Linked DNA regions of Homo sapiens. The protein of the gene in region 2 purifies or fractionates together with the protein of the main gene of each other region. This does not show direct contact. Each region holds a gene or a part of one and is shown on either strand. Other genes may lie near its edges.

Region 1 (3,500 bases), on a different chromosome or scaffold from region 2:
CCTTTATAGACTGCATATTACTTTCAAATATATACTACTGCACTTGTAAAAGTACACAGTTGATCTAATCACGCTCCTGCTCAAAATCCTCGACAGGTTCTCTGAGGCTTTCAGGATATTAGATATTAGTGCCTCTGGGGAGCTCCCCAGCCCCCTGTGCTCTCAGAGCCCTTGTACTTGTGCCCACCACAGCTCTTATCACAAGGGGACATGATGTCTCTTTGGCTGCCTCCCTCCCATCGGACTGGGGCAACTTGGGAGCAGGGGCCGGGTGTCCCTCATCAGAGTCCCCATGGACCTGGCTTAGAGAAAGTGGTGGGTGAACGTCTATGGAATGCACGAGCACGAACAAATGAAGAAAAGCAATACACTGCCTTAGAAAGAACCAACACTTAAGAATGAACTGGGAATGCAGAGCACTGTGAGCTCAGACTATTTATTTCATGTCTTTATTTTTCAATTTTTGACTCTGTGCAAAGGTACCAATGATAGGTGCCTGACCTTAGTTTAACTGGAATGTTTTTAAGATTTTTCTTGTGCAAATATTAAGTAGGGAGGCTGTTTTATTAAAGATGCTCATTCAGAATGAACCCACCAACAATGAATGAACTAAAGAACCCCCAAGGTTTTGTTCATAGGCATTCATTAGCTTTTCCCTGCTATACACACATGGAGCTCAGGCTACAACTGGCTGGGCAAGCCCTTTCTTCCCCAAGAGCTCACAAAGAGAGCCATCTGTCCAGTTCCAGGTGGAATCATCTCACGCCTGTTTTCCTGGAGCGAGAATCAATGAGGCTTCCCTGAGCCTCTCCTCCTCCTGGGGTTTCCATGGGAATCCTCCCACGCGTGACTGAGCCAGGGGCCCCCAAGGTGCAAGCTGGGCTGTCAGCCAGCAAGGAGAGCAGCAAATGGGATGAAGGAGGTTTGCTAGGCTGTGACCAGGGCAGCAAGCTCTGCAAGGTCATTTGAAAGAGACATACCACTGAGACAGCAAGGCCACGTGCAGTCCGGGCCAGCCCGGTCACCACAGCTGCCCCTGAGCCCAGAGGCCTGCCCCAGGCACATGTGGAGGTTGTTTGCAGGGCAGCTGGATTCCCTGAGGCCCAGCATGTCTGGGCTGGGTCAAAGCATGAAGGGAGAAGATGGGAAGGGTACCATTTAATGAAGCCCTCTGGGGAAAACGATGATGAAAACATGATAAGGTTTGCGTCCAATCCCTCATTTACCTCCCAAGATGAACCTTCTCCACTTGGTATAACTGGTTGTCTGGAAACAGAATGCCTAAAAGAAAAGCAGAACTATTCATGCCTCTGGCTTGAGCCAGGTCATAATAGGGACCTGCTGGGATTTCTGAAGATCCCTCTGTTAAGCCTACAGTATCTCTGGGGGCATTTTTGAGATACTAAGGAGGAAAGGAGAGAGGATGAGAGGAAGAGAGGAGAAAGGGAGCAGGATCGGGGAGGGAGCTGCTCCAGCCCCAGGAATCTGTACAACTTGCACATTTCATAGAATGCAGATAACAGGTAGATGTCTCCTGAAGGTAGATAACAGGTAGAATGTCTCTGTGGCCAGTAAACCGGGCCAAGGCCCACTCACTTCTGGAGAAAGCAGAGCTCCAGTTCACCATACATGACATTTCACAACATTAAAGGTCAGATGGATGACTTTGGCACTGCTCCAGCGTCTCCCACCACACATACCAGCACATTGAAGTGTAGAGCTTACCACAGCAGCTTTCCTGCCTCCTCCTGGCTCCAATGTCTTCCTGCCTACCCCATCAATGGGGCACCCCCAAGTCCATTGCTTCAACTTCAGTTTCCGCTTTTCACTCTCTCTCTCCATGCATCTTCTCTTATGACCTGCATCTCCAGCCCCGTGCAGACACTCTCAAGCCGGGTCTCCAGTGCTGCCTTCTCTCCTCAGCACAAGACCTACCTACTAGAAGCCCCTGGTCAGCCCTGCCTGGGTGTTGTTTCAAATGACCTTGTAAGGCCAGCTGACCTCTTTCCATCATAAGCCTCCTACCATGGGCACACCCACACTCTCAGCCCTGCGGGACATCTGTGGTCCATGTGCACCTCGGAATCTGCAGGTCCTAGGCTGAGCCTGGCCTCTTCCCTCTCTCACATGCCAGGTTCCTCTGCATGTCACTGTTCCTGCCATGGATCCCGTCTCTTGGTCCCCACCACTCAACCCCGTCAGCTTTCCCCTAGTTCAGAACTTGCCTGGATTACTCCACTGGTCTCTTAGCAGGCTTCCCTGACTCCACTGTTTGCCCGCCAACCCACTCTCCATGCTGCCAACAGGTAAGTTGGACCAAGACACCCACCAATCTCTTCATTCAACCCTCCAGGCAGCTTCTCCAGAGAGAAGCTGCACCTCTTTGCTTGGCACCCAGGGGCCCTCCAGGCTGCTCTTATTTCTTCCACACTGTCTGTCATCACGGCCCACCTCAGACCAGTCATGCCAGACTCTCCTCGTCAGCACATCCTGGGACTCTTCCCATCTTCTCTGACCTGGCTGACATTCTCTCACTCCCCTGCCCCTTCTAGCAGAAGCAGAACTGGGCACCCCTCCGTGGCAGCCCCTCAGCCCACTACATCCTCTTCCCTCCGCCCCATTATGTCCTCTTGCCTACGTCCCACTGCACCCTCTGCCCTCCAACCCACTTTGTCTTCATCTTAGCTGTTGATTCCTGCTGCTATCTCTTGCACCACATCTGCATTTCTTAATGGAGCCAGTGCCCAACCAGCCTTTATCTCCAATACTCGTACACAGCCTTGTACCTGTTACCTCTGGCTGCATTAAGACGTGCTTGTCAGACTGAAGAAGGACTAGCCACTCTATACCTCCTGCATGGTTTGCATTTTTTTTTTTTTTTTGAGACGGAGTCTCGCTCTGTTGCCCAGGCTGGAGTGCAGTGGTGCCATCTCGGCTCACTGCAAGCTCTGCGTCCCAGGTTCATGCCATTCTCCTGCCTCAGCCTCCCCAGCAGCTGGGACTACAGGCGCAAGCCGCCACGCCGGGCTAATTTTTTGTATTTTTAGTAGAGACGGGGTTTCACTGTGTTAGCCAGGATAGTCTCGATCTCCTGACCTTGCGATCCCCCCGCCTCGGCCTCCCAAAGTGCTGGGATTACGGGCATGAACCACCACACGTATACATTTTAAATGGAGTAAGTTCTGAACTCAATGTGTGAAGCAAAAATCACATGCAATCAACACTGCTTAGGAAAGTTCTTCTAAAGTTCCACACAAAGTTCATGATAACTGGTTTGAGGTATACCACCTCTTTCCCAAAGGGCACACCACCCACAACTGTTTTTCCTATAGCCTCAAAACAAATCCCTATTTCTTGAACTGATCAGCAGCAAATAAATTAGTTGGCTTATGTAGGAACCATGTTTTATTAAAAACGTGTTGCTGGTTTAAAAATTTTTTATAGTTGATCTTTTCTTACCACAGATGGTCATGTTCACATAAATCAAGAGTACATACTAT
Region 2 (4,964 bases):
GGCCGAGGCAGGTGGATCATGAGGTCAGGAGTTCAAGACCAGCCTGGCCAACATGGTGAAACCCCGTCTTTACTAAAAAAATACAAAAATTAGCTAGGCATGGTGGTGCACGCCTGTAATCCCAGCTATTCGGGAGGCTGAGGCAGGAGAATCACTTGAACCTGGGAGGCAGAGGTTGCAGTGAGCCAAGATCGCCCCATTGAACTCAAGCCTGGGCAATAGAGTGAGACTCCATCTCAAAAAAGAAAAAAAAGAAAGAAAGTGATTGTGAGGCCGCAGCTGGAACATCGGAGCGTCCATCGCACGTGGCAGACGCCGTGTGAGGGAGCCGGGGTGCACAGGCTGGAGCAGGAGCCCCCCGGTTAACAGAACCTGTCTGTGCTTCTCCGATCACGTGCCGTGCCATCAGCTACATCTCAAAGCAGTTTTCAAAGGTAGCGCCGCGCTGCGTCACCTTAAATGTGTTTTGACGCAGCTTCCGGAAGATTAAAGAGACATCCGTGGGATACATTTTTACATGGTTCGCCTGCCTCAGTCAAAACACGTGGTTGTTAACGTCAGGTCAGGAGCTGCCATCAGGAGCAAAGCTACAGTCAGAACATGCCGCCACCACCGCCGCCTCCAAGCCTGGAGAGCAGACAGGGCATCTCTCTGTCCCCAGATTCCAGCCACCTGGCCTGCATCCTGGGCTGAGGCAAGGACTGAGCATGTGAAGACCCCAGGGACAGGGATGGCCCCTGAGGAGCTCTGGGGGCTCGGCAGAGCACCTCCGTTCATGCTGAAGCCAGAGGTCATCGGGTCCTCCAAGGAGACCTCCTGCCGGGCCAGGAGGGAGCTTCCATCAAAGCTCATCTGGAGCGGCCGCGCCTGCTTTTCTCACAGACACTTCCAAAAGCAGCAGTTCTTCCACGCGATCATGCGTCTGGGCTCAGGGCTTCCAGCACCCTGGGGCTCTGCTGGGCAGGGCCAGCAAAACTCAGGGAGGCAAGGAAAGGTTTTGCCCTAAGAAGTCCCAGATGGGGGCAAGATGTGGTGGGCGGATCCCAGCCCTCAGGGGCCAGTGCAGAGCCCAGCACCCGCAGAACCCCTCCCTGGCTCCCCAGTGGGAGTGAGTCCCCGGTGCGTGGCTGTGACCTCCGTGGCTGTGAGTTTCCACGTGAATGCCACACCCCGCTGTGTGCGTGTGTGCAGGTGTGGGTGTGGCCGTGTGCTCTGCCGTGTCTGTTGAGGTGCCGTGCGCAGTGGCTGTGTGCGTGTGTGCAGCTGCGGGTGTGGGTGTGGCCGTGTGCTTTGCCGTGTCTGTTGAGGTGCCGTACGCAGTGGTGTGGCTGCCCATGGCGTGTGGCAGGGTGTCGGTCAGGAGCCATGGCTGGACTGTGGGTCAGTCCCTGTGCAGCTGTGTTGGGAGATGGCCGGCCGTGTCCGGCTGGGGGTCTGCACATGTGTCCCTGTGTATGTTGCACGTGGTTGTTTGTGTGCGTGTCCTGTGTGGAGCTGTGGGTTGGTCATGGAGTACCAGGAGTGGCCCGTGTGGTGACCTGTGTCTGTTCCACAGGGATACCCCCGGCCAGCGGCACCGGGACCCTCCAGATCTATCTCATTGACATCAACGACAACGCCCCTGAGCTGCTGCCCAAGGAGGCGCAGATCTGCGAGAAGCCCAACCTGAACGCCATCAACATCACGGCGGCCGACGCTGACGTCGACCCCAACATCGGCCCCTACGTCTTCGAGCTGCCCTTTGTCCCGGCGGCCGTGCGGAAGAACTGGACCATCACCCGCCTGAACGGTGAGCCCGCCTTAGGCCACGGGGAGGGTCAGACTAGCCTGGGGTGCAGGCCCCTGGGAGACCCAGCTGGCCTTGGAAGAGTGGGCACCAGAGGTGGGTGACAGTCCTCCAACAGGACTGTCCCACCAAGGCTGGGGACACTGGCCACGCTTCAGCTGCTCAGCCTCCTTCACCTGGCCTTGAGGAGGCCACCAAGTCATTCCCAATTTCTTGCTGCTTTAATGAGGCCAGCCGTGAACATCCTTGCAGCTCTGCCCATGTACATCCATGACAACTTCCTGTGCCGGTTGTCAGTTGACTGGACCCTGACTGATATGTTTCCTTAGAATACTTCCCTGGATGCAGATCTGTGGTATAAAAGGATATCAAAATTCTCAAGTTTTGGCAGTACTGTGAAAATGTGCTCTAAACATGTCTACTTCCATCGGGAGAGTGCCTGTTTGTTTCCTCAAACCCCACCAACACTGAACATTATTGTTTTAAAATAATATTTTATTCTGCCACCTTTAGGCCAAAGTCATTATTTCCATTTGTATATCCTGATTACCAGTGGAAATTTTTTATATATATTTATTGGCCATTTTTGTTTCTTCTGTGAATTGTCTGTTCAATGACTTTGCCTATGTTTTCTTTGGGGAGTTTCTTTTTATTGATTTGGTAAAACTCTTTATATATTCAGGAAATTATTTCTTCATCCTACATGTTGCAATTGCTTTTTGGTTGTGTCTCCAATGTCTTTTTTTTTTTGAGACTGTTGCCCAGGCAGAAGTGCAGTGGCACAATCTCAGCTCTGCAACTCCACCTCCCAGGTTCAAGCAATTCTCCCACCTCAGGCTCCCAAGTAGCTGAGATCACAGGCTTGCACCACACGCCCGGCTAATTTTTGTATTTTTTACTAGAGACAGGGTTTTGCCATGTTGGCCAGGCTGGTCGTGAACTCCTGACTTCAAGTGATCTGCCCACCTCAGCCTCCCAAAGTGCTGGGATTACAAGCGTGAGCCACCACACCCAACCTCCAATGTCTTTTAACTTAATGATGTAGCACAGGTGTATGTATGTATGTGTGGTAACCAGGCAGCCATTTCAGATTTCCATGCCATCGGACTTTTAGTCTTTTCCTTTGGACGTCTTGCTTGGAAGCGAGGGCCGGGCTCTGGTTGAATGTTTACTGTTGCTTTGCACCAGGTGACTATGCCCAACTCAGCTTGCGCATCCTGTACCTGGAGGCCGGGATGTATGACGTCCCCATCATCGTCACAGACTCTGGAAACCCTCCCCTGTCCAACACGTCCATCATCAAAGTCAAGGTGTGCCCATGTGATGACAACGGGGACTGCACCACCATTGGCGCAGTGGCAGCGGCTGGTCTGGGCACCGGTGCCATCGTGGCCATCCTCATCTGCATCCTCATCCTGCTGAGTGAGTGTGGCTGAGCACCAGGGTGGGCAGGGGCATTGTGGGTATGAGTGCCCTGTCCCAGGCATGGTGGGCAGAGGGGGGCCTGGATTTGCCCCTCAGCCCTCATCTCTCAGCCTCATCTGTCAGGAGCCTTTCAGAAATGCAGCTGAACTGGTCCATATGACAATGGGAAATTGGAGCCTCCCGTTACTCTCAAGTCTGGAGGTGCAGGCCGGCCCAGGTGTCTCCCATGGCCTGGCCCCTTTCCACGGCTCCACTCTGCCTCCCAGAGCCCCTGTGTCCTGAAGCTGTTGCCCTCCAGGACCTGTGACGCCTGTGGGCAGCTCCCAGGTGGACTTAGCAGAGGGAAGGTCAGCCCTGCCTGTTAGCGTCCCCATCCAAAGTCCCAGGACACTCTCTGATTGGACTGGCTTGGGTCACATGCACACCTTGGAGCCAATCACCAGCCAAGCAATGGAGTGTTCTCACTGGCTCTGCCCAGATCACATGCTCTAGTAGTTTCTTGAGTTTCCCACAACCACTGTGGGTTCCCAACAGGTCTGAGGGCTGGCGGGGGGGCGGTGCCAGGGGAGGTGCTTGAAAATGACCCCAGAGGTCCCTCTTCCCATCATCCCTCATGGACAGTCACCGTGGTCTGTGATACCCCAGGGATCCCAGTGGGAGGCAGGGCGGGGAAGGGTTGGGCTACCACCTCCCCAGTTCACACCCAAACCACAGGGTCCCCCACCACGTCCAGAACAGGCGGCAGGCCCCTCCTGCAGACCTGGCCTGCGGCTGACTTGAGACCCCAGGGACCAACCTGAGCCCTGTCCAAAGGATGTCTGAGTTATGAGGACTCTGCTTTTTTCCCCATTTCCAGACCTATCACCCCTTGAAAAGCCGGTTTTCATTTCTGAGGCTTGTTTTGAAAGCCGTTCAGTGTCGTGGGCTTCTTTGTATGATCAGGAGTGGAAAGAGCCCCACAGAGGTTGGGAGGTGTCTCTGTAGCAAAGGTGGAGGCATTCTCACCGATGTCCCCTGCTCTGGAAACACCGGGGGCCAGGCCCCAGCCAGAGCACCCTCTGTGGGCAGGGCTGTGAGACCCAATTCAGCTGAGTGCCTGGCCCGTGCAGGAGACCTGGGCCACTCTCGAGGGCAGCCGCAGTGGAGGGCATCCGCAGTGGGGCCGGGGCCACGGTCAACAGCAGATCCGCCTGCTGCCCGGCTTCTGCCCAGTCGTGGGCACCTCAGCCCTGGTGGGGTGCATGGGGGGCACCCGGAGTGGCCTCCCCTCCTCCACACTCCTCCTCTCAACCCTCGCTCATCTTGTCTGCCTGGATGAGCCTGGGATGCCAGCTGTGAGAGTGGAGCTGACCTCTTCAAAGGTTCTTGGCCTTGTGGCTTCCGTCGAGCCAAGACTAGGCCCGGGCTCCAGGCTCCAGGTTCTCACGGAGCTGCACCTGCAGTGCGTGGCTCCTCCCTCCGCCTGCACTTCCCTCTCCACGATCTGGGCCAGGTCAGGAAGCGTCCCCCGGCTGTCACCTCACCCTCTGCAGGCAGGGCGATGCCGCCAATACCCACAGAGCTCCTCCCAAGCCTCCACTCCGCTTCGGAATCCTCCTCACGACATCAGGCAGCCACAGCCAATTAATCGGGTTGGCAAAAAACAGCCCTCCTGACTGGGGGGTCGCCGCCCCTCTCGCCTCCGGGCTCACCCTCTGCGGTACATAAGAGTGCACCTGTGATTCTGGGCCTCAGTCGTTACATCTGTGACATG

Evidence for each region.
Region 1: the proteins of CDH4 (region 2) and SPSB4 purify together in Homo sapiens (co-immunoprecipitation; one large-scale study listed by IntAct). This does not show direct contact.

Annotation. Positions count from the first base shown.
Region 1 is NC_000003.12:141,054,347-141,057,846, reverse strand, and holds part of SPSB4 (SPRY domain-containing SOCS box protein 4), read right to left. Parts: intron 1-3,500. UniProt on the Homo sapiens protein: Substrate recognition component of a SCF-like ECS (Elongin BC-CUL2/5-SOCS-box protein) E3 ubiquitin-protein ligase complex which mediates the ubiquitination and subsequent proteasomal degradation of target proteins.
Region 2 is NC_000020.11:61,926,635-61,931,598, forward strand, and holds part of CDH4 (cadherin-4 isoform 1 preproprotein), read left to right. Parts: intron 1-1,555; coding exon 1,556-1,789; intron 1,790-2,974; coding exon 2,975-3,208; intron 3,209-4,964. UniProt on the Homo sapiens protein: Cadherins are calcium-dependent cell adhesion proteins. They preferentially interact with themselves in a homophilic manner in connecting cells; cadherins may thus contribute to the sorting of heterogeneous cell types.